Homo sapiens: one gene and its partner. The protein of the gene in region 1 purifies or fractionates together with the protein of each later gene. This does not show direct contact. Each region holds a gene or a part of one and is shown on either strand. Other genes may lie near its edges. The genes, in order: AGPS and EMC2.

The links.
Region 2: the proteins of AGPS (region 1) and EMC2 purify together in Homo sapiens (affinity purification with mass spectrometry; 2 studies listed by BioGRID and IntAct, with this or other methods). This does not show direct contact.

The regions. Positions count from the first base shown.
Region 1 is NC_000002.12:177,383,868-177,400,603, forward strand, and holds the start of AGPS (alkyldihydroxyacetonephosphate synthase, peroxisomal precursor), read left to right. Parts: upstream 1-8,905; 5' UTR 8,906-8,922; coding exon 8,923-9,182; intron 9,183-9,187; exon of another isoform or gene 9,188-9,257; intron 9,258-11,706; exon of another isoform or gene 11,707-11,811; intron 11,812-16,736. UniProt on the Homo sapiens protein: Catalyzes the exchange of the acyl chain in acyl-dihydroxyacetonephosphate (acyl-DHAP) for a long chain fatty alcohol, yielding the first ether linked intermediate, i.e. alkyl-dihydroxyacetonephosphate (alkyl-DHAP), in the pathway of ether lipid biosynthesis.
Region 2 is NC_000008.11:108,463,654-108,480,008, forward strand, and holds part of EMC2 (ER membrane protein complex subunit 2), read left to right. Parts: intron 1-6,172; coding exon 6,173-6,258; intron 6,259-6,408; coding exon 6,409-6,468; intron 6,469-7,200; coding exon of another isoform or gene 7,201-7,330; exon of another isoform or gene 7,331-7,510; intron 7,511-12,228; coding exon 12,229-12,310; intron 12,311-13,128; coding exon 13,129-13,239; intron 13,240-15,352; coding exon 15,353-15,457; intron 15,458-16,355. UniProt on the Homo sapiens protein: Part of the endoplasmic reticulum membrane protein complex (EMC) that enables the energy-independent insertion into endoplasmic reticulum membranes of newly synthesized membrane proteins.

The DNA of each region.
Region 1 (16,736 bases):
GAATTTTAGATTGCATACTAAGTTAGCAGAAGAGAAATTATACATAAGGTACTTTCAACTCTCTCCCAGTTATTTGGCTAATTTTAAAATTAGCCTTTTGCCCTGTACACTTCAGTGTAATTGTGACATCCAGGAGCACAGTGAATGGCATTGTGACACAACATGGAACTACCTGCAGCCACTTTCACATTAAACGTCTTCACCTCCTGAGCTAACTCACTTCCCTTTACTGCAACAGACAGCTAACCATAGTTCAATGCTTTCCTGTCATTCAAACACTGTAATCTTCTTTCTGTAGTTGTTTAGGTCTTCATCCTTTCTCAGTACAACTTTTTACAATGGCCAACAGGTTCTCGGGTATACCCAACAGGTTGACTTCCACTTGGGAGAAAATTCCAAAGTAGTGATCTCTTCAGGCTTGTCATGCTAATTCCATGCTCAAGAGCTTCTAAAAGCTCCCACCAGCAAAAGTTTTTACTCTTTTGCTAAGTTTTCAATGCTCCCACGGTTGGTCTCACCTTACCCATTTAATTTTATTTCTCTTCCCTCTACCAATAATTAATTTTTTCCAGGAAGACTGTCTTCCTTATACTAGCTTCACTTCCCCTTCAATAATAGCACTTAGAATTTCTGTTTTTGCTCATTAATCCTTTAATGCTCCTGCGAACCAAGCCCAGGATCAAGACAACATATTTGGCCATGGTAGAGCCAATATTCAAACCTAGGTGTGTGTAGCACTGAAGCCACTGCTCTTAGCTATTATACCAACTATATTAGTAATTCAATTACATTAAAATGGGCTAAATGACCCACGATTGTATGCTCAGATTGGTTAAAAGAAAACATCTAAATGCATTTACAAGAGACACATCTAAAATATATGGATACAAAAAGATGAAAAGTTATAGGATGGAATTATAAACACACTCACAAAGCTGGTGTAGTTAAACTCTAAAACAAAAACCATTATTAGAAACAAAGAGGGACACTTGATAATTATAAAAGGTTCAGTTTGCCAGAGAAATATAACAATTTTGATATATCTAATACATAGCTTCAAAATAGAGAAAATAAAAATTAGCAGACCTACAAGGAAAAATGAATAAATCTATAACAGTGGAATATTTCAACATACTATCAATAACTAATAGAATAAGTAGATAAAATACCTTTGATTTAAAAGATTTAAACAATATAATCAGCAAATTTGAACAGGCATTATATGGAACTCTATACTCCCAAACAAGAAAGAATACTTATTCTTTTTAAATACAAAAGTGAATTATTTATAAGTGAATAATAGTGAAAATACAGTTATTAAAACTTGAAGGAATAAAGTGTGTTGCTTAGAGAGAAATTTATACCCCATAGAGATATAGTCTCTAAAAAAAAAAAACTGCCAGAATGGTAGCACACACCTGTAATTCTAGCTACTCAGGAAGCTGAAGTGGGAAGATTGCCTGAACCCAGGAGTTCCAGGTTACAGTGACCTATGATCATGCCACTGCCCTCCGGCGACAGAGTGACCTTGTCTCAAAAAAAAAAAAAAAAAAAGTAAAGAAACAACAAACAAGTATAAATAGAAAATCCAAATAGCATTATGTTATTTAATCTATGAATAAAAACCTTCCCATAAAGAAAACTCTAGGTTCAGATTGTTTCTTTGGTGAATTCTACCAGACATTTAAGGAAGAAATAATGATCAATCTTATACAAACTCTTCTTGACACTAGAAAACAAAGGAGTACTCATTAGCTTGTTTCATGAGGTCAGCAAAACCTGACATGAATATTACAGAAAGAAAAATTTCTTTTAAATTACTTTTAAATATAAATATACTTTTAAATATAAATACAAAAATCCCTAAACAACATTTTAATATACTGTATTTAGTAATATATAAAAAGGTCAATATCTCATGACCAGGTTGGGTTTATGCCAGGATTACAAGGTTTCCTTAACAGTAGAAGGCCAATCCTTATAATTTACCTTACTAACAGAGTAAAAGAGAAAAATCATATGATTATCTCAACAGATACAGAAGCCACCCCTGCCACCAGCCCATGCTTTTTTTTTTAAGACAGAGTCTTGCTCTGTCACCCAGTCTGGAGTGCAATAATAGCACAATCTTAGCTCACTGCAACCTCCGCCTCCTGGGTTCAAGTGATTCTCCTGCCTCAGCCTCCTGAGTAGCTGGGATTATAGGTGTGTGCCACCAAGCCTGGCTAATTTTTGTATTTTTAGTAGAGATGGGGTTTCGCCATATTGGCAAGGCTGGTCTTGAACTCCTGGCCTCAAGTTATCTGCCTGCCTCCGCCTCCCAAAGTGCTGGGATTACGAGCGTGAGCCACCATGCCCGGCAAGAAAAAACATTTGCTAAAATTCAATATCCATTCATGATAAAAACTGTTGGCAAACTATGATCAAAAGTGGAGTTCCTTAATCTGCTAAAAGGTTTATTAAAAAAGCAAAACATCAGAACCCTACTTCAAACAATGGCAAAATGTGGAGAGATTTCCCTTGGAAATCAGGAACATTATAAGGTTGCCATCATCTAAACTTCTATTCAACATTGTACTGGAGGTCCTAGCCAGCTGGGTAAGGCAAGAAAAAGCACAAGATATAACAATTGAAATGGAAGAAATCAACTGTCATTATTCACAAATGATATAATTCTATGTAAAAGATCTAGAAGAATATATAATAGTTAAGATAGTGTGATACTGATACAAAGTTGATAGATAAACCAATGGAACAGAATAGAGAGCCCAGCAATACATCAGTGCTTATATGGACACTCGATCTATGACAGAGGTGGCAATGTCAAACAAGAGCTTTTCAACAAGTGGTGCTGAGACAACCCCCCATACCAATGTGGGGGAAAAAAAAAAAACTTGACCTCTACTCCATAAACACCAAAATCAATTCCAGGTGAACTATAGATATAAATATGAAAGGCAAATCGATATAGATATGAAAGTCAAAAAAGCCTTATAAAAATAAGGCTTCTAGAAGATAATACAGGAGAATTACCTTCACTACCTCAAAGCAGAAAAAGATATCTTAAACAGAACACAAAAAATGTCAAATAAAGGAAAAGGTTGGTAAATTTGGTCACAATGAAAGTTAGATCTATTGCTCTTCAAATATCACTATTAGGCAAATAAAAAGGCAAATCACATAATGAAATTAGAAATTTGCAATACATCTATCTGAAAAAGGCTCATATCTGAAATATATAAATAATTCTTACAAATCAATAAGACGATGACAGGTAACCAACTGAAAGATGAATAAGAGCCTTGAACAGGAGTTTCACAAATAACGACATCCAAATAGTCAACAAACACATAAAAAGGTGCTTGATCTCATTAGTAATCAGGGAACTGCAAATTAAAACCACAATAAGATAATAGTACACATCTACCAGAGTGACTGAAACTAACTAGATTGACAATAACACATATTAGAGCAATGGGAACTTTCATATACTGCTAGGGCAGCAAATTTTGTAAAATCCCTTTGGAAAATAGATTGGTGTTTCATTATCTATTACAGTTAAGCACAGTTAAACATATGTACACTTTCTGACCTAGGAATTCCACTCTTAGATGGATACTCAACAGAAATTCACATGCCTGTACACCTAGAGACATCTACAACAATGTGCATAGTAACGCCTATCCATAGTAGTATGAAACTGGAAACACTTCGAATGTCCATGTCTATTAATTGTCGAAAAGATAAACTCTGATATATGGATTTAATAGAATACTATACAGCAAATAAAATAAATGCACAACTACAACGTTATTAAAACTCATAAAGATAATGTTGAATGAAAGAAACCAGACACAAAAGAACATATCATAATCTTCTATTTATATAAATGCAAAAAACAGGAGCAGGTAAAAGATATATGCTTAGTTGATAAAACCATAAAAAACAAACAAGGAAGTGCTTATCATACATCTAGGACAATGGTTACCTTTGGTGGCAGGGAGAGTGCATAAAGTGATTGGGAGAGAGCATAAGGGGGACTTCTGGATTCTGTAATGTTCTATTTCCTGACCTAGATGGTAGATTAAAGGTGCTTGATTTGTGATAATTTATGCTTTGGTTCACTTTTCTCTGTGTTATATTTCACAAAAAAGGGTATAAAAATCCAAGAATTCCTATATTTAGGGATCACTCAGAAGCTCAGAAGACAAGTAATGAAAATCAGAGCAATAAAGAAATTTGGTGCATGATTCCAGGAGTTAATCTATCCTATTTAGACTTTTTTTTGTGCCTCAAGTTAGAAGATGTCATGAATGCAAATAAATCCACTCCATTGAAAATTACAGGTCATACATTCACTGCTTGTTTCTGTGCATGTGGTCTGTTCTCAATTAAGAGCCAAGTGTCCCAGGACTCAGAAAGGACAGGTTTGTTGAGATGGCCCACCTAAAAGTGATATTCACTGAGGTTTTAATTTTTGTGGAAATCACAAGAATCTCGATGGACTTGGCTTCATATGAAATATCTGTTCCTCTGGTAGCATGAATTCAGGGTATCCTGCTTGGGTTCTACTTTTGTATGGAGAGGTGGTAGGAAACTCTTCATCAAGGTCACCTTCATCCTTATTCCCACTAATAGTATTACATAATTTTTTTCCCACTTACGGACTGACTTCTAACTAGCCTGATTATACCATGTAAATGAGGCATTGGCTTAAACACTTTTGCATCTCATAGCACCTAGTAGTGAATTAGGTACATGATAGGCTTTCAACAAATGCTTTTACCGTCTATATGTTTTCATTATTGTACACATATTTAAAATATATACAATCAGTAGTTTTCCTACTGGTACATAATTTTGGTTTACATTAAGCTTTTCATCACCCAGAAGAAAGCTTTTTGTTACTCTGTTAATATCTGCAAAATTTATAAATTTTTGCCTTCTGAGAGTTGGCAAGAAGCATATCTATAACTTAATTTGGACAAGGAAGCAGTTAACTACATTTACATTTAAAGTATTTTAGTAGTGTCAGATTGAGCACTCCAGGGAGTCAGGCAAAAATTAACAGATCCTTCCGAGCTTGACTGGATAGTGCTCGAACAATCGCTTAAGATCTGGAGATCTAGCACAAAAATCAAGTCCTCCTCATTGTCTGCCTTTTCTCAGAACCATTAAATAGTTATTTTACATTAGTCAAACAACTCTTAGAATGTCTTAACTTTTTTACAGAGCCTGTGTTACAAAGGAGGTGGTGAATCAGAAAGGAGGTAACTGCATAGGCTTGGAAACCTTACAGAAACCCTTTTTCTTACCATTCCCAAAACTTACCTTTGACTTGCACATTACATAGAAATAAACTTATTTCTGATGGTTGGATCTGCAAGATGGCTTGTAAAAGCCTATCTAATCCATAATGTACTGGAAATGGTATTATTTTGACCACACCTAATCATTTATAGCATTTTTTTTTCTGACAAAAATACATTTACAGCCCTAGGTCAGTATGCAAGGGACAAATACTTCTCGCATATTTTTCTTCTCCATACCCCAGTGTGGGTTATAACAGTAGTATGGGAAAAGTAAGGTTGATATCTCCAGGCACCAGTAACTTAAACTCTACAACTGTGCTATCAAATATAGTCACCATGATCCACATAAGGCCATTTAAGTTTAAATTAATTAATTAAAATTAAAAATTCAGTTTCTCAGTTATCCTAGCCACATTTCAAGTGCTCATAGTCACATATAACTAGCAGTGACAGTACAGATACAGAACATTCCCATCATCTTGGAAAGTGCTCTTCTATGAGGTAACTTTCTACATTAAATATTAGCTAGGCATTTTCCCTTCCTTCCTTCCTTCTTTCTTTCCCTTTTCTTTGCATTTTTTTTTTTTTTTTTTTTTTTTGACAAGGTCTCACTCTGTTGCCCAGGATGGAGTGCAGTGGCACAGTCTCGGCTCACTGGAACCTCCATTAGCTAGGCATTTTCACATGGGCGAAAAGAGGAAAACAGTTCCTATGGGGACTGTGGCTCAGTGTCTCTCCCCAGATTCAAAGTGACGAGTCACTTATAAATTAAGTATAAGTCTCAGATTCTTATGTGGGATATGAACTCTGTCTTCATGGAGTTTATGGCCTACTGGGAGTAACAGACATGAGTAAATGAAAAGTTAATTAACATATAAAGGCAGTATATGATAAATGATAAGCAAGAGGATAAATTCTCAGGGAAAGAATAGATTTAAGAGACACAGAGGATAATGTACTGTTGATGTACTTAATATAAAAAGCAAAAGAGGAAAAGGCTGAAAATAACCCTGAGGTTGATGGAACAGGATGACAGTGGCACTTTGGTGGACTATAGGGAAGCATAAAAGGGAGGGGAAAATGAGCTCAGTTTCTACCCCATTCAAGGAAGCACATGGAGAATCACGGGATTACATTCTTGCAAAAACAAAAAATGACCTACTGTATCAAAGGCTACAGGACATCTCAATTCAATAACTGATAGGTCTAGACAGCTGTTATCATATTTCTCTGCAACAACTTCATCAGTGACATCTGAGATTGGATTCTAAAGATACAGGAGGAAGTAAAACATGAGGAAATGGAGGTAATGCCTAGATGAACTGAGGGGATAGTATACAGGAATAATTCTTGGCTCATTAATTATTGGATTGAGCCACCTCCATCTATCTGTTTTGGAGACTGCTTTATCAGGTCAGAGGAGATGAGTGTGACTTTCTTCAGATTGTGCAAGACAAAAAGAACACCATTAGAATTATGTACATGACACTGGAAGGCAAAGTGGGTTTTAAAATTTTAAAATAAGAGACAATTCCTCTAATTGACAACAAAATCAAGTAAAGGAAAGGAAGCTAGGATTTTTCTTCTGTTATCAAACATGTAGGAGCATATAGCCACTTTTCTGGTCATCAGTTGAATACTGAAAATGTCAATCAGGTGCAACTTCTTTGTTGTGAGGGTAGGCAACAAAGTATGCAAAAGCCAGAAACTAGTGGCTTGCAGGCTTTGATATTTAATTTTACAAGATCAACTAAAGATTCTCTTTTTTCAGTCATAAATACCTAGGAAAGTGCTATATGTGTTTCATGTTCTTGCACCTCATGAATGAGGTCGTGATAGCTGTGGTGGCAATCTCTGAAATTCTTCCCAGAACTCAATCCTTAAGAACCAGGAGTATAGTTTATAATTAAAGTGAAAATTTATTTTAGAAAGTTCAATTTTAGAATCTATAAAATAAAAAACAAAAACCCCAAGCCTACGTAAGTAATTTTAACGTAAAATGTTAATGGCCCCAAACTCTAATGGTGGAATAAGGACAATAACATGAAGTATATGATATTTGAGATAAAATATAGCTATTTAAGAAAAGCTTCTTACTCTCCTTGAGCCTTCATCTATAAAATAAGGATAATAAAACTGTGTCATTGTGTTACTGCAAAGATTGATTAAATAGATACGTATAAGATGCCTAGGTTATGGCCATTTTTTATATTTAACAAATTCCTAATTCTTTCTTGTTTCTACAACTGTACTAAATTATTTTAATAGCTGCAAAAGTATTTTAACATATTGACTAACCATTTCTCTGTTGCTAGACATTTGGACTGTTTTCAATGGTTTGGTATCTCTTCGTATATAAATTTCAGAAGACATTCGGACCTCCTGTAAAGGCCAGGTAATACATATTTTGGGGCTTCTGGGACCACATAAGGTCTCTGTTGCATATTCTTTTAAAAAATTTCTTGTTTTCTTTTAACAACCCTTCTCAAATACAAAAACCATTAGCATGAGGGCTGTGTAAAAACAGGCCACAGACTAGAGCTGGCCCTCCAACAGCAATTTGCTTAGCCCTTAATTGAGAGTTTTTAACCAGTCTGGGCCTCTTTGGAAGTTCACTCTAAAGGCATAATCTCAATTTTAGAAGCTGGCAACACCCAAGAGAGCAATTGTTAGTCTCTAGTCCCATGGATGTGGTGTTCTTCAGATTCCTCTGCCAATATTTTTCTTGTTAGGAAAGCATGATGTGAAAGTGGTGACAGGATGGAGAATGACAATGGCCAGTGTATGTGAGTTTTTGTCTAAGCTAATTCTTATGCAAGACACCGGCTGAAACAGGTGAGGAGCACTTTTCACGTGCTATCTTCCAGAAATGAATTCAATCTGTAAATAACTGAGATGTCTTCACAGCTCTTGGGTAATTTTTGTCTGTAGCAATAAGAAACTTTATCTCTATTAAAGTTAGGAAGGGGTTAGGATCCAGTAATGAATGAAATGAGAACTTAAGTTGCAACTCAGTTTCTGTACTTACTTGTGATCTAGCATTAAACACAGTGCCAGGCACGAAATAGGTGGTGAGAAATAAGAAAATGATAGAGCTATTTGCTCTAATGGTTAGAGGCAATGATGGTCAGCTTTGAGTTACTTTGGTGACCCCGCAGGGAGGAAGAGCACAGGTGGAACATTAGAATCTCTTTCAGGAAAAGGATGCCGCTGGATCCATCAGGTCCAGTAGCACTGCCCATTTCTCCTGCTCCAAGGCATCTGCCCTCGAAAGCCCCCAGGCCACACCCGAGGACACCACCCAGGGTTCTAGGACACCTCGAGGGCGGACGTGGTTTGGCTCTCGGTCCAGCTGGACCGGGCTGGGCCAACCGGGAGTCAGCTCGAACTCACCTGCTTGGCAGGTGCGCGCTTCCCGAGGCGTGACAAGGGAGCGCCGGCGCGGTGGGTGGGGGGCAGAGAATGTGAAGCTCCAGACGCATGGCACCCGCCGCCAAGTCGCCGCGGTGGCTGCCGGGATGCGCCGCAGCGAATGGTCGCGCCGGGCGCCGCTCTGAGTGACCTTTCACCCGCGCCCAGCGGTTCCGGGCGGCAGCACAAGGCGGTAGCCATGGCGGAGGCGGCGGCTGCAGCGGGTGGGACTGGCTTGGGCGCGGGCGCGAGCTACGGGTCTGCAGCGGACCGGGACCGGGACCCGGACCCGGACCGCGCCGGGCGGAGGCTGCGGGTTCTCTCTGGCCATCTGCTGGGCCGGCCCCGGGAGGCTCTGAGTACCAATGAGTGCAAAGCGCGGAGAGCCGCGTCGGCGGCCACGGCAGCGCCCACGGCCACTCCCGCCGCGCAGGAGTCGGGCACCATCCCAAAGAAGCGGTGAGTAGCGGTATGTGGAAGGAGTTAGCGTCGAGGGACCAGGCCGGGCCTGTGCTGCAGGAGGGCACAGGCGAGGTGGGAAGGGAAGTGACACGGGTGGGCGGAAGGCATCCCGGTCCCTGAAAGTAGGGACCCACCTCTCTTTCGAGAGAGTGGACTAGACCCTGGATTCTGTCAGGAAGGGGGCGGGATGGGATGGTGGATTTTGGTCACTATGTGAGGGTAACAGGCTTGAAGAACTCTCGTTGGAGAAGGGTTTAAAGGATTCCTTTTTCCTGAGCTTTTAGTGCCAGGAATTCATTTTTTATCTTGAATTAATACTTTTGGTGCTGAGGTCTTGGAATGGGTAGCAGAGGTTCTATTTTTCTCCGAGGAGATATAAATTTGTACTAGATGATAGATCATAGGAATCTCTCTCATTCGCGAAAGCCTGCTGTGGGGGAAACTGGTGGTGCCCTGGAAAAAGGTGCTGACTGGTTTCTGTGGGGTAAGTTCCACTTGCTTAGGATCAAGATGTATTGACTTTGAGGGAGGAAACCGATGAATGGTAAGAAGCCATAAACTGCAAACACTAGCTAGTGGTTTAAGGTGTGGTGGTATAGCTACTGAGCTCTGTGTAACCAGAAGCTAAAAGACAAGAGTCTAACCGATGAGGGATGTTTGTAAGAGATCTTGACTTTCGATGTTTTTGGAGAAATCTTTTTTTTTTTTTTTGTATTTTTAGTAGAGACAGGGTTTCACCGTGTTAGCCAGGATGGTCTCGATCTCCTCAATCTCTGATGAAGGCTATTAGGAGAAGCTACTTTCTGACGTGTGGCTTTGTCACCGTGGATAAATGGATAAACCGAGAGTGAAAAAAATAAGTAGCTAATGTTTAAAGTGTACTTTTAAGTGTGCCAAAGTGTGCTAAATCCTTTGTTTCTTCCCAAGCTATGAGGTATGTGCGGTTTTCTCCCATTTTACAGATGAATAAATTAAGTCTGCTGGAGTCTTAGCAGATATGCTGTGTGACAGGTTAGAATTTGAAAGCACATCAAATTGACTTCATGGCCAAGTTCCTAAGCTATACTTGCTTCTGATGAATTAATTCAACATACATGAGTCTTTACAAAATACACACTGTACCAGCAATACAGAAATTTAAAAATACGGTATTTACTCTTAAGGAAGGAATAGCTTAGTAGGTAAAATTATAATACAGCGTTATAAGAAACTTAACTGGGAACTATACCACCTGGTCATTTAACCCAGTTTTGGGTTTGTGTTTGTTAGTGCAAAGATGTTCCAAAGTAAAGATTGTCTGAGTAAATTTTGGATGTTTGCATTACTAATAGTTTGCCAAAGGGGGAAATTGTTCTTGGCATACAAACAGTATGTTCACAGGTAAAGAAGTGAGAGACAAATTAGGGAACTGCTGAGACTCAAGTGTAGTAGGAGAGGGTGAGAATGACAGGGGACGAAGACTGGAGAGGTGAATCTTGTTTACAGGATTTTACGTGGGGCAATACATGATTAGATTTACCTTTGATAAAGGTCACACTGGGAGCAAATTGAAGACAGTTGAGCATTTTGGCAGTATAATGGCTGGGAACATAGACCTGGATTTCAATTTCCACTACACCGTTACAGCTCTATGATCTTGGGCAAATCACTTAACCTCTGAGAGTTTCAGTCACCGTCATTTGTAAAAACGGGAACAGTAATCCTGTTTTGCAGTGTTGCTGTGAGAATTGAAAAAAATAGAGTTAAATGATCAAGTGTTTAGTGCAATGCCTGTTACATAACCTTTCAAAGAATGGTAGCTGCAATTTTCACAGTGTCTAAAGGCAGAGAGACTAGGAGACTATTATTCCAGGGAGAAATGCTGGGATTCTGAACTAAGGCATATTATTGGGAGTAGGCAACTTAATTGAGAAAATGCTAGGAGGTAAATTTTCCATAACTTGGTTACTGAGTGGTGGGGAGGGGAGGAATAAAGGATTTCATCTCGTCTCCTGGCTTCAATTGAGGTTATATTATTAATAGCTGTCATTAGGTTTAAAATTTTCTAAATGGTTTCATGTACATTTATGTGTTCTCATTTGTATGCATATATGTGATTGTACATTTTATGTAGATTCACACTCTTAGAACCAAGTAAGGAGGGCAGGTTTTCCTTATGGTTAGATTTAATGGCTTGGTTTACAGCATTCAGAGAAAAAATAGTAACGTTTGTAAGGCACACCAAGATGATGGTTGAAGGTGACTGGTCAGGGATGCCCTGTGTGGCTGCTCCAAGGACTGAAGGCATCGATAGTTCAGGCACGACTGTAACCCATTTGTTGCATAGGTTACAGCTGGTGGGAAGCCCTGGTCTTTGGTTCGGGGTTAGACGACTAGTGGTAAAATCTAGTCCTGTACTGGTACTTTGAGATTTTCATCAAAATATGAGGGAACACAGAAACTTGTATTAGATGACACATCAAAAGCTTCCACAGAGGGTGATATACTTGATAGATAATCATGAGGAACCCAAGTCTCCCTTCTACTTCCTACTTAGCTGGGCCTGCAGTTGCCAGCTACAGAATCCAGCCTAAAGGGAAGATAAATGATAGAGGAAGAAGGAACCACAGTATATATCTAATAAGGTGTGAGTATGCCTATATGTCAATTATTTTGGAATAATTTTGTGATTTGTGTATTATTCCTTCCCTTTTATTACTTTGGATGATAACATTGCTTGTAATTGTTTTATCACATGGTTGTTTTATCACATGGTTGGTTATATCACATGGCCTGGAGTAGTGACTTCTTGAAATGCCATATTTTCATTCCTGTTACAGAATAGTCATGCATATGTTTCAACATTTATAGAGTAGTTGCTTTATGAAGGTCCTGTCCTAGGCATTGGAGGTAAAGAGATGAATAAGTAGTCTTCAGCCTCAAAGAGTTCACAATCTAGGAAGTGAGAGACACAGTGCAGTTTGATTAGAGCCACTGTAGATACAGGTACAAATGTAGCACAAAGGAAAGACTGACTTACTCTATATGGGGGTGGGAGGGTGGGGGTGGTCAGAGGAAGCTTTCTGGAGAAGATTTTAAAATGTGGATGGTATTTTGAGAGTTTATATTCCAGGCAAAGGGAACAGCATATGACAAAGCAAGGGGCCATGAAAGTGCATATCGTATTTACATAACTAGGTGATTTAGTATTGGTAGAGGTGAGAATAAAATGAAAGGAGGGCAGTGGCAGGTCATGGAGGTCTTTGGCTTGTGGGTTATCAGTCCATTCGTTCATGCATTCATTCATGCTTATAAAATATAGCAGTGAACAAAAACTCTGCCCTATGGAACTTATATTCTAGCTGGAGTGGAGACAGTGAACAAACAACTAATATAGTATGTCAGGTAGTGATAAATATAAAGAAAAATGAAGCAGCTGAAGGGGCTTGGTGATAGAGAACCCTTGAAGGAATTAAGCTGGGAAGAGACATGATCAGATTGGGTTTGGGTTTGAGAGAAGTCACTCCAGCTACAGTGTTAAGAATGGATTGGAGAACGGTAAGGATGGACATAGATCAGTTAGAGGAGATCAGTTAGAGGAGGCTGTTGTAACACAATAGGCGAGAAATAATGAAGAATTAAACTAAGATGATGGCAATGAGAATAGGGAGGAAATGATGTGTGTGAGAGTTTTAGAAGTTCATTAGGTGACACCATTAAAGTTTAATCACACTTTAAAACTATGTAACTAAATTAATGCCACAGGAGTTTGGAGACTGAATGACAATAGAAAAGGGATGACACAGTCCAGAGGAATGTGGACATTTCAGAGGGCTGACCAAACAAAACCTGCTGTTTACTTATCACATGGTCTCCTATGAAGTTGGCACCAATTACTTCTTTTTCTTTTCTTTTTTTTTTTTTTGCTATGGAGTCTTGCTCTGTCTCCCAGGCTAGAGTGAAGTGGCGCGATCTCAGCTCACTGCAACTTCCTGCCTCCCGGGTTCAAGCGATTCTCCTGCCTCAGCCTCCGGAGTAGCTGGGATTACAGAGCCTGCCACTGTGCCCAGCTAAGTTTTGTATTTTTAGTAGAGATGGGGTTTCACCATCTTGGCCAGGCTGGTCTCGAACCCCTGACCTAGTGATCCACCCACCTCAGACTCTCAAAGTGCTAGGATTACAGGCATGAGCCACCACGTCTGGCCGGCTCCAATTACTTCTATCCCGGAACATATGTTCTCATTATTTGAAGTTGCTGAGCAGAGTATTGAAGTGACAGTTTACTCTTGGATCCTCCCTTTTTCCTTAAGTGCATGTTACCCATGTACAGTTTTTCTTTTGACTTTGCTTCTAAGTGCAATTTTAGATCCTTAAAAATCATAGTAAATGTCAATTACATATGTGACACTTTTACGTCTTGGTTTTGGATTTTTTTCAGTTTTTTTTTTTTTTAAGGCTCTTGTGGTCTTACGAAAAAGAGAAGAAAAAATACCATGTTAACTTTCATTCTTCCACACTGCTAACCTCTTTCCCAGTTATAACTTTGGCTCCAACCTCATTGTGGTTTGCATTAGTCAGAACTGCTCAATGGCAGTTTTTACGGAGGTTATAAATGTTCAGGTCAAAAGAATGATTAAGAACGCCACTAATTGTTTAGTCTACTTGCTTATAATGTCACTTACAAATGCCATTTTAATAAAAAGCAGTATATTAACGTCGGGCATGGTGACTCACACCCCATAATCCCAGCACTTTGGGAGGCCAAGGCAGGCAAATCACTTGAGCCCAGGAATTCAAGACCAGCCTGGGTAAGATGGTGAGACCCCATCTCTACAAAAATACAAAGAAAGTTAGCCTGGTGTGGTGGCACAGGCCTGTGGTTTCAGCTACTGGGGAGGCTGAGGCGGGAGGATTGCTTTGAGCCTGGGAGGCAGAGGTTGCAGTGAGCTGAGATTGCGTCATTGTACTCCAGGCTGGACGACAGGGCGAGACTGTGTCTCAAAAAACAAAACAAAACAAAAAAGTATTATTTAACATCTGCCGGAAGCTTTGGTAGATATTTTCCAGAAGGAATACAGCTGAGTTAACCTCTTGTAAATATTTCCCAAGAGGGTATCCTGAAGCCTGTAAGAGCTGATACAGAGCAAAGGTTATTTGCACAAGTGACCTGGCTTAAAACTTAACATCGTTTGGCAAAATTCGAGCTTATTTTGGTAGTTATGTTGAATGAAATATTTACCCTATTTTGAGTTCCTAGCTAGGAATTCTAGTGATAGTAGTAATAGGAGTTTTAATTGACTAAGTCCTAATATGACAGGAACCATGCTAAAGCTTATGTACATTATGTCATTTAAATCTCACACAACAGCTCTGAAAAATGAGTGATACTATATGTACATTACAGTTGAGGAACTAGAGGCTTAGAGAAGTTAATTTATCTAAGGCCTTGCATTTGTGAAATGAAAGAGATGGCATTTCAACTCTGTTCTTGCTCCAGAGTCCATATTCTTTCCTCTATGCTGGATTACCACATCTGATGTTCCCGGGGAGATATCTACTTACTATTCATCAAGTTGCTGTCTTTGTCATGCTAAGTTTCAAAGTTTTTGTGATTAAATAGATCATGATCAAATACTTTGTCATATAGTTAAGAAGGCATTAGTTTATGTTGTACTTAATAAATTATAAAACATCATTCTGTCAAAATGAAATTCATAATAAGAAAATGTAATGGGTGGTTTAAAAAGGTAGACCAGCCAGTTTACTTTTGTGAGTGCATTTTGCCATTTGACTTGTGGAAGAAGACAGTGTTTGGAATGAAAGGGAATTAGGAAGAATGTGGAAGACCCAAGATCAGAGAAGAAAGGAGGAAAAGAGAATAGGTCATGGAGGGTTTACTGCCTAGTTGCAAACTGTCTTTGGACTGTGAATGAACAGGAAACTGAAGATTTAATCGCTGTGGTTATTTGTTAATATGCTTCTCTAGATTGCATTTTAAGATGGACCAGACCTTCTCTACATAGACTTTTTTATGTTGGGAAGTTACTATAGAGCCATCTACCCTTGTGGTCATTTAATAAAAATACCTGAGAATGAATTAAGTGATCTGTTTTTAGGCTGCAGAGAAATGGATTGCTGTTGTAGTCAGATGAGATACTTTATGGAACACTTTAAAAGCAAGTGCTAAGCAAATATTACTCCGTTTGATTTTATTTCCTTATTATTGAGAAGATAACTTCTGCTGTTATTCCGATTAGTATGTTAATTTCAACCCTAAACCAAATCAAGGGATCATGACTAGAGTCTACCGTTGTAGCATAAAGTATTAATAGCTCTCTGCCTATTAGTGTTCTCTTTATTTGTTGGGTCTTGGGGGTGATATTTTGTCATATCCTTGTCCCAACATCTGGGCTCAGAATCAACTGAGAGATAAGACACAGGATACAGACAGAGAGGTAAAAACATTAGCTTTTTTACTGATAATGCTGGTTGGAGATCGTGGCTTAGATCTGTACTACCTAATATTTACCCTGAATTACACTCCATCACAGGCAGTGTACCACAGAAGGCCTCCTCTGCAGGTGTAGAGCCTAACACATGCTACCAAAACAGTAGAGAGAGAACTTACAGCATAATTAACTTTTGCAGAATGAACACATCTATTTTATCTGTATTTAGATTAAGAAACAGCATTACCAGTACTCTAGGAAGCCCTCTTTGTGCTCATCCCAGTGGCTCCTTCCACCAGGATAACCACTACCTTGACTTCTAACATATAGATTTGCCTGTTTGAACTTCATGTAAATGGAATCATACAGTGTGTACTTTTTTGTGTTTGGCTTCTTTCCTTCAGAGTATTATGTTTGTGATATTCCTCCATGTTGCATCTAGTCACATTTTGTTTATCCTCATCGATGAATAGTATTCCATTGGGTAGATATATACCACAATTTATCCATTCTGTTATTGATGAACATTTAGGTGGTGGTTACTTTTGGTCCGAATAATTACTTGTTTTAATATAAAGTGCATATCAAACTAGTGTTTTTATAGATATTACTGCATAGGAAGAGGTTAAAGTAATTAAAATAGTGTTTAAGAATTAATATATTTACTTTTCTTAAGTACATCAATTGTTTGAGGTAATAAACAGAATGCTCCCAGGTACTAAATCATTTTTATAAATAAATTAAATTGGATTTTTAAACAAAGTGACCTTGCAGTGTTCACATATTATTTACGAGCTTATAAGATTTCAGCTTAAAATCATAAGTCCAACTCTATTACTCAATTACACATTTTAAATTTGAGTTACAAGTCAGTCATTCTTAAAGACTAGATTCTCTTAAGTTTTGTAAATATATAAAATATCAATTTTTTGTATAGTTTTCTTAAAAACATTAACATCTGTCTTTGGTTCTCTTAAGCATTTGTATATTTAATTCTGGATCTTTCAGTAGTTGAAATACGCTTACTCATTGAAAAAAACTGCTACTATTCCAGTAACTGCAGTTACTTTTGATGAGAGAGTTTTGCCTCCTGGGTGAGATTCGGAGGGGTAGATATCGTCTT
Region 2 (16,355 bases), on another chromosome or scaffold:
TAGATGTAATTTCCTCTGTGCCAAGGGTAAAGATGGTTTTTTTCGGTGAGGGGAGGGTGGGGGTCGATTTTTATTCAGGCTTCTCACAGTGGTTAGAGCCACTCTATCTTCAGAACAGTCACAACACAGGAAATGCACCACTGAGACTGCCTAGAAAAGTCTGACCAGCTAAATCTTATTGCTTAAAATACACATATTCACAAAAACTGGTAAATGGTAACATGCCTCACACAGGAATGTGTTTGGATTTGCAAATATCCTGACTGGCTGTAGCACCAAACCCTCCACTAACCCCTCATTCACCTGGAACACCAGTGTCACTCACATTTCCCTGGCCCCCTAACTATTCCTTCAATTCCTTATAAAATCTCTCTCTGAGAAGGGTAGCCTCCTGTAGCAGGGGCCAGACTGTGACGTGGGAATTAAGCCCAGCTCTGCAGGTTGCATTTTCATCTTTTTCATCTTCTCACGCCTTGAGGGTAAGATGCTGCAGTGAATCCCACAGTTAACACTCAGCCAGTTCCCCCACTGTAACTGGGGAAAGAAACTTGAGAGGGTCAGAATACATCCATTTGATTAGTAGTTAACTGAAAAAGGGTTCCTTTTGGTAAAACTTTTTCACCTTTGAGTCATTTCAATGAGTTATTTGAGATTCTTTAAAAAAGGTAAAGGAAAGGCATCGGAGGGGCTTTGACACACTCTGGCCAACTCTGGCCATACGCCAGCCTGCTTGTGCCCATTGGACTCAGTGGAGGGAGGCAGGCAGGCCCTGAGCTACCTCCAGTGCCAGCAAAGCCTCCTCCTGGCAATTCTGGGTGGGGATGATGTCTGGGCCACAGCTAGTCCAAGTCTGTCATTGAAGATCCATTCAAGCTCCTGTTTGAAATTCCACCTTCTTCTGTCCCAAGTGGTTGTGGATACCCCCAGGGGTTGGTACGGAGGACCAGGTGCAGCCACAGGGGGCAGATAGGCTCAGAACATGTTTCCATTTACAGGAAACAGAACACAGGCCTCTGTGTGACTGTGGAGCAATGTGCAGATTGCAGTGATGAGTAGAGTAAAACCTCCACTTTGAGCTCAGCATCTCTGGTGAACACAGGGAACTGCAGGCAACAATGCTGCTGAATACACCCGAGTGCACAGTCAGACGTGTTCCGTAAACGGTAAATGTGTAAGACCAATTATCTTGAGAGGGTATCTTGCTCCAGAAGATGCTTTTAAAATGCCGCATTTTCCAGGCTTCTAGGTATAAACCTTGGGGGCAGGGAACCTGGATTCTCCTTTCCTTTTGCTGGTCAACTGTCCAGTTCCTTCTGGGTCCCTGAGTCTGGAGTGAGGCAGGGGGGAGGTTATAGATTGTATTTTGCCGGTAGGCCTTAATCCTTTAATCCTTTTCTAGGTAGTATCTCTTCCCCAGGTAGCCTATTTAAAATAAAAAAATGTATGTCTTTCAGAAAAAATTGCTAGCTAGCCCTATTCTGAGTAATATTATAGAAGGCATGTAGCCAGTTGGATGAAGATTTATTCATGGTCTTTAAAAGTTTGAAACAGATTATATAGGTTTCCGTTTATTGTTTGGCACTAGTGTATATATATCTTTAGTTGGGAAAATCTTACAGGAGCATGACTCTTCCAATTCTAGTCTTCATTCAGGGTCTAGCTGTCCTGTAGCCACCTTCCCTTTGATTGTTTTAGTAAACATCACAATAACCTTTATGCTCACTCCAAAGTTTAAACAATACTGTACTTTTTAGTTGTTCTTTCTCAATTTTATTTATATTTAACACATGTCACTTAAAAGAATGTGAATTCTCTGAAGCCAGGGATTGAACCTTATGTATTCGATGCTCTTTGAAGAAAATAGAATAGGATCTATGTTGTTGGCCAGTTGATTTACTTTTGAATAATGGAGTAAATTGTTTGTGGTTCGTGGTATTCTTTTAGTAGCGTGTTTTTCACTATCATACATGGGTTCTTCAGAACTATTGTTGCATTTCTTAATGCCTCCAGATTGTTTATTCAGAACATCGATTAAGGCTGCAGACAAATTATATGAATTGATATTGGCTAAAAATCTTCTAAACTTTGTGAGGTCAAAAAATGTAATTATTAGCATTTATTAAGGGATGATATAATTTGTTTATTGAGCTGTGATTTTGTTAATTTTTAAAAAACATTTAAGTGAAGCATGTTCAGTTAAAAGAACAACTTATATGGTCATCCAGATTTCTACTTTACAACTGAGAAAAAGCTGCAGCTTTCTACAGAACAGAGTATAAATATGAGGAAAATGGTGAAAGGGAGTGATAGAATTGAAGAAAATGATGATGATGTGATAATGAAGAAAGGAAATGTTTATCAGATATTTACTATGGACCATCACTGAGCTAAACACTTTACATATATTATCCCATTAATTGTCATCATAATCCTTTCAGATATTGTCTTTATTCTATAGGCATACAAGGTCATAGAGAAGTTAAGTGACTTGCCCAAGATCTTACAGTTAGTAAGAAATTCTGGATAGGTACTTTGATTTCAGAAATTAAGGCTCTTTATCATGAGGAAAGAAGCAATGGTAGTAAATGGGATTGAGAGTAGGTAGTTAATACACGTGACAACCAGCTGTTACCCCTACAGAAATTTTATTATTTAAATTTAGTCAGTTAACGAGACTGTACTTGCTGCTGTTGAAGAGTATGTGAAGACTAATAACTTGTTTTTATTTTTAAAAATCTAAGTATAATTTTTATTTTATAGAATATTATGCTAAGGAAGCTATGATAGAATTTTTTTTTTTTTTTTTTTTTTTTTTTTGAGACAGGATCTCGCTCTGTTGCCCAGGCTGGATTGCAGTGAGGCAATTATAGCTCACTGTAACCTCTGACTCCTGGGCTCAAGCGATCTCCCACCTCAGCTTCCTGATTAGCTAGTACTACAGGCGTGTACCACCACACCCAAGTAATCTTTTAAAATTTTTCGTAGAGATAACATTTTGCTGTGTTGTCCAGGTTGTTCTGAAACTCCTGGGTTCAGATGATCCTCCCGCTTTGGCCTTCCAAAGTGTTGGGATTACAGGCATGAACCACTGCACCTGGCCAAAATTGGTCTTTTTTACAAGCCTTTTTTGTGTGCCCTAAATGAGACCCAGAAGCCACAAGAAGCCTTGTTGAACCTCATTCTGGTTGCTTGATAATCATTCAAAACCTAGGGTTTTGTGTGGCTTTTGGGAGATAAGCTGCTGGACTCTTTATTCACAGTTAGACATTATATGAATAAGGAGTTGGACAGCTGAGTATTAAGTGTCCAGAGAGCAAGAGACTATGGCAAAAAAGAGACATGAACAGATTCAGGAGTCCCAGGATTTGCAATGTAAGTCTGGGCTTTGTTTTTTGTCTATGTAAAATGAAGAGATGTAATTATCACTGCCTGCTCCTCAGTTCTTTCCAATTGTAAAATTTGTGATGTATTCATTTATTCTGCAGATAGCTACCGATCTGCAGTAGATACTTCCTTCAGTGTCCAGTACTGTTTGGTATGAATGCGTGGAAACTAAGATGTGCGTTTCTATTTTTATCTTAGTTTTTTGAACCAGTGTTTTTGTTATTATAATTGGTTATTTTATGTATGATACCTTGTATATTGTTTAAAATTTTAGATATGCTTTGAATTATGTGGCAAAACTTTAAGACTTTAAGTGGCTTTTTTTTTTTGAGACCGAGTCTCGCTCTGTCGCCCAGGCTGGAGTGCAGTGGCGCAGTCTCAGCTCACTGCAACCTCCACCTCCCGGGTTCAGTTGATTCTCCTGCCTCAGCCTCCCAAGTAGTTGGGATTACAGGTGCACACCACCACGCTCAGCTAATTTTTTTGTTTGATTTGTGGCATTTGTATGCAATATTTTCTTTTTTAAAAATGTCTATTTATTTTTATTTTTGTAGAGACAGGGTCTCACTATGTTGCCCAGGCTGGTCTCTCACTCCTGGGCTCAAGTGATCTTCCCACCTCAGCCTCCCAAAGTGCTGAGATTACAGGCATGCACCACTGCTCCCAGGTGAATCCAACTGTTTTCAACAAGTTTTCACTGCTTACAGTATCTCATCTCTGCTGTTGCAAATCCTGTAAGGATTGGGACAAGATATAAATATCAAATAAAGCAAGTCTGTGCCAGTCCTTTAAAGATTGCTTAGTTAGAATTTTGTGGCAAGGTTTAACACGTAAACATTAAGTCTAGAACCAAATGTTAAAGAAAGGAAGATAACATTTATTTAATATTATTATATGCTGTGTTAGTTGCTTTATATTGATGCTTGAAGATAGATGGTATTACTGAGGTTTGTAGAGGTTAAAACTAGTAAGTGATAAGAGTTGGGATTCAGTTTCTTGTCTTTTGGATTTCAAAACAGACATTATGCTCTGTATATTGTCTATGGAAGAAGTAATGTCATGAAAAATGAAAGATTAAATTATGTTTCAGATTTTGGTGAAATCAGATATTAAATGGCCGAAAGTTTCCTGATTATATGTTAATTTATCCCTCATCTATTTGGAGGACTAGGGACAATGCTCCCATTTTAAGTCTAAAATTCTTAATGGCTTTAGGGTTTGAGTTACTTTCAGAGCTTTACTTTTACTTTTCTTCTGAGTTCTTGAGACTTTTAAAACTTTGCATTTATTGTGGCACATTTTTGTTTTACTTAGTAAACTTATTTTAAAAATATTTGCTTGTGCCTACTATGTGACAGGCATTGTGCTAAAGGCCTTTGCCATGACCTGATTAATTAAGGATATAGATTCTTTTTTTATTTTTTATTTTTTTTACTCTCAGGATATGCTTAAGGATATATATTATTAAAACATCATTTTTTAATTACCCAAAATATTATAAACATTGCTCTGACCCTTATTTATTAGTCTCTTGATTTCTCTAAACTTTCACTTTCATTTCTTCAGAGCCAAATCACTCTCTTACCACCCCGTAATGAGTAGCTCTTGATACTGTAAAGAGACCACATCCATTTTACTTCTGTCTGCATCTTGTGGAATATTATATCAACAATAAGAAATTTTATTCATAATTAATAAGTTTAGCTTGGCCTCAGTTATAGTATGGTTTATTGTTTATCCTTCTGTATTTGAAGCAAACATAAATAGAGAGGACGTAAATTTAATAATTTATACAGTATGCTCCAGTCCCTGACTGTTTACTTCAGCCAGTACTGCTTTCTCCTAGGCCTTTGCTCATGTGTTCTTCCCACTATGCAGTTTCCATAAATAACTTCCTGTTTTGTTTTTTAATGTCTACTTACTCTTTGTTTCAGTACACGTATCATATGTGGGACCGTCTTTGCTTTCTGTCTTTCCAGTTCGTCCACTCTGACACAGCATGTGTCAGAATCTCTTCCTTATTTTCATAACACCCTAGATATCCCTGTCATTGCTCTTACTGCATTAACTTTTTTATTTGATACGTTTTTGTCATGAGAATGAGCTTCTGCAAGGAATTATCATTTCTTTTTTATCTTTATATTTTCATTGTGTAGCACAATATTGGCAAACAGTAGAAGTCTGGTACATATTTGATGAATGCACAATAAATGGCATTGATTTTTATGTTTATCATTTTAAAAACTTTAGAATACAGCTTCTAATTGTTTTGCTTATCATACAATATTTATTTCAGGACTGTATTATTCTTGTGAAAGACTCATAGGTAGATTTTCTCTTAAAATTGTGAAAAAGTTGTCAGAAGACATATTTATATAATGATATTCAAAGGCCATGCCATGGTGAGATTTTTTTTCCCCTAATCTCCACTGTTCCTCCCCCTCTTAGGATACAGATCTTATGAATGAGACAGAGTAAAGGGCTTTAAGTTGGATAAAGATTAAGATTCCCTGCTGGTTAATAATTATCAGAATCTGGATGATTATTTATTTGGATGAAACGATGCATACATTGTGTGCATCAAAAGTAAAGCATATGTGATTGTTAGAGGAATGTTTGAATTCCCCAGTGGGATGTCATGGGGTATGTTTATAAACTCCCACTAAGCAGTAGTTCTACAATGGAATTTCTCTGGCATTGAGATAATAATTTGCACAGTCAAATTACCTTCTTTACAAAACCCCAAGGAATCATAAGGGCCTAATCCTTTATTAATGTCAACCCACAGGCTGCAAGAAAGCGTAAGATTGCCATTCGAAAAGCCCAGGGGAAAAATGTGGAGGCCATTCGGGAGCTGAATGAGTATCTGGAACAGTGAGTATTTTACAAGAGGATTGTGTTTTGTTATTCTGATAAATCTTTTTTAATTAAAATGGAATTTGCATTTGATTTTCCTGTTTGTTTTCATGCTGTTCATTTACAGAATATCTACACACTTACTTTTTTTTCTTTTCCTCTCACCAGATTTGTTGGAGACCAAGAAGCCTGGCATGAACTTGCAGAACTTTACATCAATGAACATGAGTAAGTTATTAAACACACAACATTTTGTTGAGTGCAGTTTTCATCACTGTAAGTTCAGAAAGCACTGTGGTTTCCAAAGGATTGGTGAGAGGGTGTGAATCATGTCATTTGAAATGAGAAACAGAACAAATCAACAATTAAATGAAAAAGAACAAATCAGTAATTCACTGGTCATAATAAGTGAATAGCTTTAACTAGGTCATTTGTGTTTTGCCAAATTGTTTATGTTTAGGAAATAAGTTTTTCTTTCAAATATAGATGGCATTCTTTGGAAATAAAAAGGCCTGCATTTGCTAAGCTAAGTTTATTTTTGGTAAATCAAAATTGTGAATTTTTAGAGTTCAGATTGTTCTTATATACAAAGAGTATTATACTCCCTGCTGTTTAAAAATTCTGTCAATTGTATGCATGTATTAGCCTTAGTACTAAGAGAATCAACTCTTCCAAAGTAGAAGCATTCTGTTGCCTGGGTAAAAAACTGAGAATAATCAAGAATGTTGAATGCTCTAGGATCTTGCTTATTGGATGTTTAATGTTTTTGTTAGCTTTTTTATTGCTGTAGTGACAGGAGGAAATCCCAGTGTGAGAGGATTAGTCCAGAGTCTTAGTGCAAGTTTTCTAATATTACAGCATTAATGCTAACCTCCATCTAGAGGCGTGTTTTTTATTTTTTTTCTTAGTTCTTCTAAATCTGAAGTATATGACATTGTTTCTTTTCCTTCTTTTTGACAGAATAGAATCAGATTCTCATGCGCATTTTCTTGTGCATGAATATTTAACCTTGTTCTCATACTACAAACAACTGATGAGAAACAGAATGAAGACATTTGTCTATTGTCTGTGGTCTATATATATAATGTGATCTAGAGGATTGAGGTAGTCTATTTGCATAAGTCTAAGGAAAGTGGGAGCTAAAATAAAAGTAATAGCTGTAATTTAATGAATGTATACTATATTCTAGGAACTGTTTTTCAAGTTCTCTGCTATACTCTGAAACAGATATTCTGGTTTTGATTAGGAAATTATTTCCTGAATCACATTCAGTATAGATGATATGCTTGTATGTACACATATGTAAACATACTCATGATTTCTTACACATGTGAAACAGTATATAATACTTATATTTAAATACATGAAATTGAATTTTTAGAGTATAGTAAAAATAATTAGCATTAATTTTATTTTGTTTCTAAAACAGGTGACAGTCATTTAACATTTTTTGTACTTTCTAAAGATTTTCTGACTAAAAGCATTTTAAAACATTTCAAATCAACAAGGAAATTTTTTTTTTCAAGTTAAAGGAATACCTAATGCAGAAAATTTGAGAAACACAGTAAAGCATAAAGACCAAGACAAAAATTACATGTAATTCCAGCATCCTAAGTTAACTATAGTTTGTTTGGTTTTTGTCCTTCCTTATCTTTTAAAATAAAAGCCCAAAATAAAATTATCTTCCGTAGTTTATACTTTCCCTTAGTTATATTTTGTTCAAAAATTTCTTGTCACTGTAACAATCTACAGTGTGTTTTGAATGGCTTTATATTATTTCATCTTACTAATTTACCCTAGTATTTTTAACGAGTTTCCTAGGGAGATATAAAGGTTGTTTTATATTTTTATATATAATGCTGTAGTGATCATTTTTATTTTGTTTCCTTGGGTTAAATTCTTTGAAGTAAAATTGCTTGATTAAATAAGATGTACATTTTCTGTGGTTTTGATAAATAGTTCCTGATTGTTCCCTAGAATGGTAACATCAATTTACTTGCACACCAGCATTTACTAGAGTCCCTCTTTAACAACACTGGATACTATGATTCTTTTTTAATCTTTACAAGTTTGATAGGTGAAATTGGTTCTACCTTTTTAGTTCATTTTTACGAGCTCTTTTTATAAAGGAGAGCAACCATTTGTCAAAAGTATATCCTTGTTATATGCTTTTTAAATACTGACTTCTTAAAATTATAGAAACTTTACATTTTTAGAAAATCAGATTCATCAATTTTTAACATTATCATGTCTGCTGTCCTTTAATAGCTTAAAAATATATCACCTTTTCCCCCTACTTCATTTGCAATTTTATTTTTTTGCATGTATTTCTAATATTTATTTCATCATCAAATTTAGGTTATACCTTATTTTTAACCTACCATTAAATTTACTTATTTTTTTCACCATGTGGTACCACCTTCAGTTTTGCTTTGTTTGGAATCTAAAGAGTTTATTGAAACAGAGGTGAATGTACACTTAAGAGAAATGAACTGAGAAATCTCAAAAAATGAAGATTTACAAAGATGTAGGAGCACCTAAAAATATTTTTTTAGAGAAAATGATAATTATGGTCAGCCTACCCTTTTATCTAGTATCACAAAACTCTTTTTGGTCTTAAAGCTAGTTAGTTACAAAATGACCATTTTTTTTTTCTAATTGAACACTTAGAAGGAATATTTATGTTTAGGTGACTGGAAATGCATATCTACAGGTTTTTTTGAAACTGTGAAAATTACAATCAGTTCACTTGATTCATTTGACATGTTTGAGCAAGTCATTATAGGAGGCAGGAATTTTTTGATGGAATGTTAAATTATCGTAGGATATCAGTTTTAGCACCAGTCTTGGGGACACAGTGGCAAAAACGTAGCAGTTTCGAAAATGTCAGATATATTTAACATTCGATATTCCTTTCTGCATATGAACAGTTGTAAGCTTTTTTAAGTATAATAGGTCGCAGGCAGCTTTGGTAGCCTATATCTAGAACTATTTTTTTTCTTTAAGAGACAGAGTCTACAACATTTCCCAGGCTAGACTTGAGCTCCTGGGCTAAAGTACTCTTCCCACCTCAGCCTTTTGTGTAGCTGGCACTACAGGTGTGTCACTGTGCCCAGCTCTGGAATTTTTAAACTCCAAATAAATATCTATAGTATAATTTTCATATAGCCCTATTTAATGTTTCTATAGAGAGAAAAAGGGATATAGAATTGTGCCATGTAACCTTTTTATATTTTTAAGTTACTTTTATAAGTTTGTTTCTGATTTATAGTTTGTTTTTAGTTATTCCAGGGATATATGTTACATCCATTGACCATATTGAGACACTTGTTCTAAAGTTTTAAAACTACAGTTAATTTTTTTGTGTCAGCACTACCAATATGTATTATAGGTTAAGTATCCATAACCTGAAAATCTGAAATCCACAATACTCCAAAATCTGAAACTTTGAGTGCCAACATGATGCTCAAAGGAAATGCTCATTGGAGCATTTTGGATTTGGGATTTTTGCGTTAGGGATGTTCAACCAGTAAGAATGCAGATATTTTAAAATCTGAAAACTTCTGAAATCTGAAACATTTCTGGTCCCAAGCATTTTGGTTAAGGGATACCCAACCTTTGTAAGCAAAAATACATTCACATTATGAAAGACAAATTTTTTTACTTCATTTGTTATTGAAACTAGATACTATACAGCAAGGAACAGTTAGTATTATACATTAATTATGATTGTGATTATAGTTCCTTTTCATAAGTCCAGCCTTTTAAAATTCCATATCAACGGAATTACCACAATTCTTTAAGGAAAAATTGTGATGTTGGTAAAGTAACACACAGTACCAAATACTGTAACCTTTAGTTATATATACTTTTGTAAGGAAGAGAAGAAAACTTTATTTAGTTCTAGTACTGACTCTAATATTGTAATAACAATTGTTATTCTGTTTTAAGTAGATTCAAATTATTTTTACTTCTCTATTCTTAGTCTTGTTGAGTCACTGTGTGTAATGAATTAACTTCTCTATGCACCTAGAATAGTACTGGCTATGTATTATCCCTGACAAGACTGAGGAAATAGTCACTTTCTGCGTGGCCTAACAATGGCCTAGAAAAGCTGGACTAGACCATCTGTTGAGCTCCTTCTAGCTCTAATTTTATTTAATTCTATATTTTATCCACAAAATTAGTTTGATACTGTACTTTATAAAATTGGGGGAAGGAGTCCTTTTCTCATATGTGATGCTAATTGATTTTTGAGAAAATATCTTGGTATTCATTTTACCCTAAGAGCTGCTACTACCTGCCCATTTTATCTTGCTTTATGCACCAGTGTCACAGTTGTGCTCAACCCATTTAAATGTCTAAGAACTTTTATTCTTAGTCTCAATATGAATTTTTGGCATCATACTATTAATAATTAAAGGAACACATTTAGAAGAGAACTGTCTTTTGATAAAGTGTTTAAGGTAGAGACAAATTTTCCCTTTTCTTTTCGAGTGATAAATATATATTAGGTAGGTAGTCATAACACATTTGTTTTAGACATTTATTCAATCATTTGTTCAGTCTTATTAAATACCTATCATGTGTCAAGAACCAATGCTAGGTTTTGAATTTAAAAATGGAAAGGGCTAAATAGCTGCATGATCTTGGATGAGAGTACACACACACACACACACACACATACATATATATATGTGGTCCTTCATAAATCTAAAATGCTGTAATTATTAGGTAATCTGCAGGGTGTATTTTTTTTCCTCAGTCCCTTTGGGTGTGACTGCTGTACACATTTTCATGTTACCATTGACATCTTCAGTTTTTCAATGTGATGTGTAATGCATATAAGCAGCATATGTAGTGGTTGAAGAGTACAGGCTGTCTGGAGTGGCACAGCCTGGGATTCAGTTTACATCTCTGTGCCTCAGTATTCTCAGCTCTAGCATGTTGATAATAATTTCCTTCTTCCTAGGGTTTTGGTAGGATTAAATGAGTTAATACATGTAACACATTTAGAACAATGCATGACACGTAATAAGCATTTAGTAAAAGCTATTATTAGTATACATGTGTGAAACAGGAAAATAATTTTTAAAAGTATATCAGGCAGTAGTGTAAAGGTAGATCCCTTTGTATACTGGTAAATGCCAAAAATAACTTTAGGTAGCCTCTTTTTGTTGGGTAGTGTCATCACTTCCTCACTGGGAAGAAATCTTGTAACACCTGTGTTCATTAGAATTTCCTGTAGATAGTGAGGATAGTCACATGGCATTAAACGTTTAAAATATATTTAGTGAATTACAGTCACATGCTTTAAAATGTTTTTCCAGAGCTCTTTCTGGCAGTTCTCTTTCCTTAGGTTTTCAGCAAGATTTTTGTTTATTCTACCACAAGATTAAATAATAGTACAGTATATATCAAAACCAACTTGATCTGTTTTTCATGGGCTTAGAAATTTATAACTTCATTATAATTTGGTATTTGACAGTGAACTTAAGTAATGAGAGAAATCTTTGTAATAGAATATGTTGGTAAATATATGCCTGTGAAGAATTTTTAGTGAGTAGAGAATATTTAATAAAATGTTTATTTTCTCCTTACACATTAGCTGTTTGAATATTTTTTTAAATGATCAGTCAACTTCCAGAAGTTGTTTTATATACAGCTTGATCCAAGGTCTTGAAGCCCTTCTTATTAGTAGTGATGGGATGTAGTAGGAGTGACCCAGTTTTTGAAATGTAGTATCTATTGATTGTTTGCAGGCTGCTTTAAGATTTAAGCCTGTGTTTATTAATTTCATGATAAAATTTAATGTCATTGATATTTATGAATTTCAGATGACAAATACTTTATTAATAAAGCTATGTAAATTATATTGGGAATAAATTGTTTAACATGACTAAAGTTGTTTTTAAATTATTTCAAGGTTTAACTAAGATAAAAATTTGTGACTTTAAAAATTAATTTCTCCTCTTGATGTGTTTTTAGCTATGCAAAAGCAGCCTTTTGTTTAGAGGAACTAATGATGACTAATCCACACAACCACTTATACTGTCAGCAGTATGCTGAAGTAAGTGTTTTCAGAACAATGGCATATAATTTTATTTTGGTTACTATTCGGTGTTATTATGGAACTAAGAATATTTCCTTGATGTTAAGCAAGTATATAAATATTTAAAACATCTGATGAGCATTGAATTGTGGGAATAAAAGTTTAAAATTTTTAACATTGCAGTGGTAATACTGACTTAAGACATACTTAAAACAGTGAAATTCCTTGTATTTTTATATTTGTATACTATTTTCTTTCCTAATTATAAGTTATATCACATTTGTCACCACTTAATGGCTTGTGAGACATTTATAGTGATTATGATTGTTAAATCCATATTCTGGGAAATTTGTATTAAAGCCAATTGGGACATAAGTATTTATTTAATTTGCATATTATTAAGAATAGCAGTACAACTGAATGCTATAAGGCTAGAAGGACTTCATTATTAAAGAATGTCCATGCAGATTATAAAAGGACAATTCAATATTTAAGTCCACATTTATAATGCCAGTAATAGAAAATACAATGTGAGGTGAAGCATTTGCGAGGCAGCTGAAATAGAAATTATTCTGGCTTTTTATTGCGGCAGCATTTTTGTTTTAGAAACTACTCAGTCATCTCAATGTTCATAGAATAGAATAGCTTTTTTGGGGAAGGTTATGTTTGAAATTTTAGATTAGCTTTAAAAACCTTTAGGTGAATTCTTTTAACATCTTGTATTTGTTTACAGAGAATATCTGTTTCGATTACTGAATGCCTATGGTATGATGAAACCATGCTATATTTCAAAGTAGTAAAATAAACAGTTTTCAGCACTTTGCAATTTTTAACAGGTTAAGTATACCCAAGGTGGACTTGAAAACCTCGAACTTTCAAGAAAGTATTTTGCACAGGCATTGAAACTGAACAACAGAAATATGAGAGCTTTGTTTGGACTTTATATGGTGAGTTGAGGTGCATGTTTAATGTTATTTTTAAAAATCTGTCACTTAAAATCCATTTAACTATCCCCTTCAATCACTCCTCTCCTGTTTTTTGTATTTTATTGATAAGCATGTTTTTTTCTGTAATTAATTCTGAGCAATAGCTTGTGAGCCAGTTTTCTTTTTGAATGTTAACACAGCCTAGCTGTTTGACATTCTTTTTTTGTAAACTATCTTTTATATCAGAATTGAAATCTGCCCTTATAAAATTAAATAGTGACAGATAGGAAGAAAACATGATTTCTTGTTTTGATATTCTTGGGTTTATGCCCAACATTATTGTATTTCTTCCCTAAATTATAGTTGTATGAGGTATTTTTAAACAGTGCCAATAAAATACATTAGAAATCAAATCCCTAATACATCAAATTAAAACATTTTTTATGGTGTAGAAAAACAGTTTGGAAATTGTGGGAAGTATGTAATGACCTATTGTTTAGGTATGCCAAATGCTGAGCTTAGAAAAGTCAATTAATAAGAGCTGTGGGAAATAGAGGAATAATCTGCTGACCTTTAAAACATATATATAAAGTGAGCACCTCCCTACAATAAGAAACGCTGGGAGAAATAAACTTTAATATTTTATTTATCCTGTTCCTTTGACTTCTTGATGAGTGTCTTCTTGTTGCAGCTCAGTGAAAAGGAACTGAGTGAAGAAATGGAAATAGGAAGAAACAAAAATGAAACAATTTTTAAAAAGGAATGGCAAAATATGGTTAGAAGGTGGTTCAAATGAATTTCAAGAAAATTTTCCTGGATTTTAGCAAAGCCAATTGCAATGGCTTGAAAATACGCTATAGTAGAAGTATCTCTGTATCAAATAAATACTAATTTTAAAAACTAATATACAACAAATTAATAATAGCTTATACATGGCACTTCATGTGCTGGGCATTGTTCTGAGCTCTGTTTTTTATTTTAAATCAATAAATCCGCACATCAACTGTTTGAGTAGGTGCTCTCAATACTATCCTCAGGTGGTGAAACTGAGACACAGATTTAATTAATTTGCCCAAAGATGGGCACAGAGCTCCTAAATGATCGAGTTGGGTTTCCAGCCCAGGAAGTTAACTCCAGAGTTTTTCTCGTAACCACTGCATCTGCTAAAATTCATAAGAAGAAGGTAACATTAAAGTCATAGAGGTATAAAAATCAGATTTGGGGATATAGATTCTTCACTGGCAGAGAGGGAGACATAGGTGAAAGAGCCTATAGCACAGGCTGGCATAAAACAAAGGCTTAACCTTTTTTTGAATCACATGGTCATATTCTTTTAAGAGTAAAATATATTTAAGAATAGGAATCAAGTTATATCTTACTCTTCACAGTAATATATACATTTAATAATTAGCATATGATTTTGGGGTTTTATGGATTCTTTCACAGATCCCAGATTAAGAACCGCTCATTTAAATACATTTTTAAAAAGGAGAGGGTGGATCAAATTGCAGGGACTAATTAGTTCTCTGAAACACAGTTTGAAAACTCATGGTATAGTGAAAAGAGAAATGGATTAGAGATAAGGATCTTCTTTATTTCGAAGACCCATTATTTTGCTTTGGTCAAGTTAAATCTCTCTTATTGGACTTAAATTTCTTTAACCTATTAATGTAGGATGTCAGGCTAAATTATTTTTGAGTTTCCTTTTTCTATAAATATTCAATAATTCTATGATTCTGACATAGCAAGTTATGTAATTCAGTAATAAGAAATAACACCAGTAATATCCTACAGTGGTAAAGTGCTTTTGGTTTATAAAGTGTTCTTCTAGAGCTTCTTTATTTAAATGATATGGAATTTTACCTTTAAGAGCTGTTACAGGTACATAATTAAATAATTTTAGGTATTATTTAAAATATCTTTTCCCTTTCCACTATTTTGGATTTATACTATATTTTAAAATATATTTTCATTTTTAAGCACTAATATTCAACTTTATGTTTATATTAAAAATTATTTTAATACAGTTTTTAAAAATTCTTTATTATCCCATTGCAACCATGTCCCTTATGTTTTTGATTATCTTGACTAGCAAAAAAGGAATTTTGCTTTTGATGTTTTTATTTGTTTTTAGTCGGCAAGTCATATTGCTTCTAATCCAAAAGCAAGTGCAAAAACGAAAAAGGACAACATGAAATATGCTAGTTGGGCAGCTAGTCAAATAAACAGAGCTTATCAGGTTAGTATTTATTGATCATTTTGCTATGTAGGTCAGTTAATGTATTTCTTAGTTTTGTTACTACAAACTACAAAGTCGTATGTCTAGCATTGGACTTATATATGCCTTTGGGGCTTTATCAAATGTGTTGTGTTTTGAATTAATTTGTAGTTTTAAGATTACCTTTTTTTCCCCTCAAGAGGAATCTGTTAGTATTATTATTTCATAATTAGCCTTACCATATGGAAATCTCAGTGGTTCTGCATTTGGCAAACGCAAAGTAATTCTAAAAACTCAGAAAGGATAAATAAATATCACGTCACATTTCAGAAGCAGATTGGGTATGTGAGTGTATTATTAATCATAGGTATCTCAAGAAATAGAAAAGAAGGAAGAAAGCCTTAAACTAATCAAACTGCATAACAAAGTTTGTGCAGTCTGCTTACACTTCAGATCCTTTACTGAAACTTCTCCATTTGTATCTTAGTTTTCTAAAGTTCGTCCTTAGCAGATTTTTTAGGAAATTATTTTTCGTTAGAAATTTGCTCATGGGAAAACACATCTTTTTATGTCTTTAGCCTTATTTGTCTATAGCCTTTATATTTAAAGGACAATTTGGCTTTTTATATACCCGTTAATACTTTACCTAAGTATCTTAAGCATACTGTTCAGTTTTGTTTTGTTTTTAATATAGACGAGATCTTGCTATATTGCCCAGGCTGGCCATGAACTCCTGGCTTCATGTGATCCTCTTACCTCAGCCTCCTAAGTAGCTGGGACTTCAGGTGCAGGCATCACCATGCCCAGCTATTTCATTCTGTTTCAGAATAAAATGTTGCCGTCAGGAAATATGATGCCGTCTTGACTTACTTTTTATCATAAGTGACTTGTCTGGTTACGCAAAGGAATTTTTTCTTTA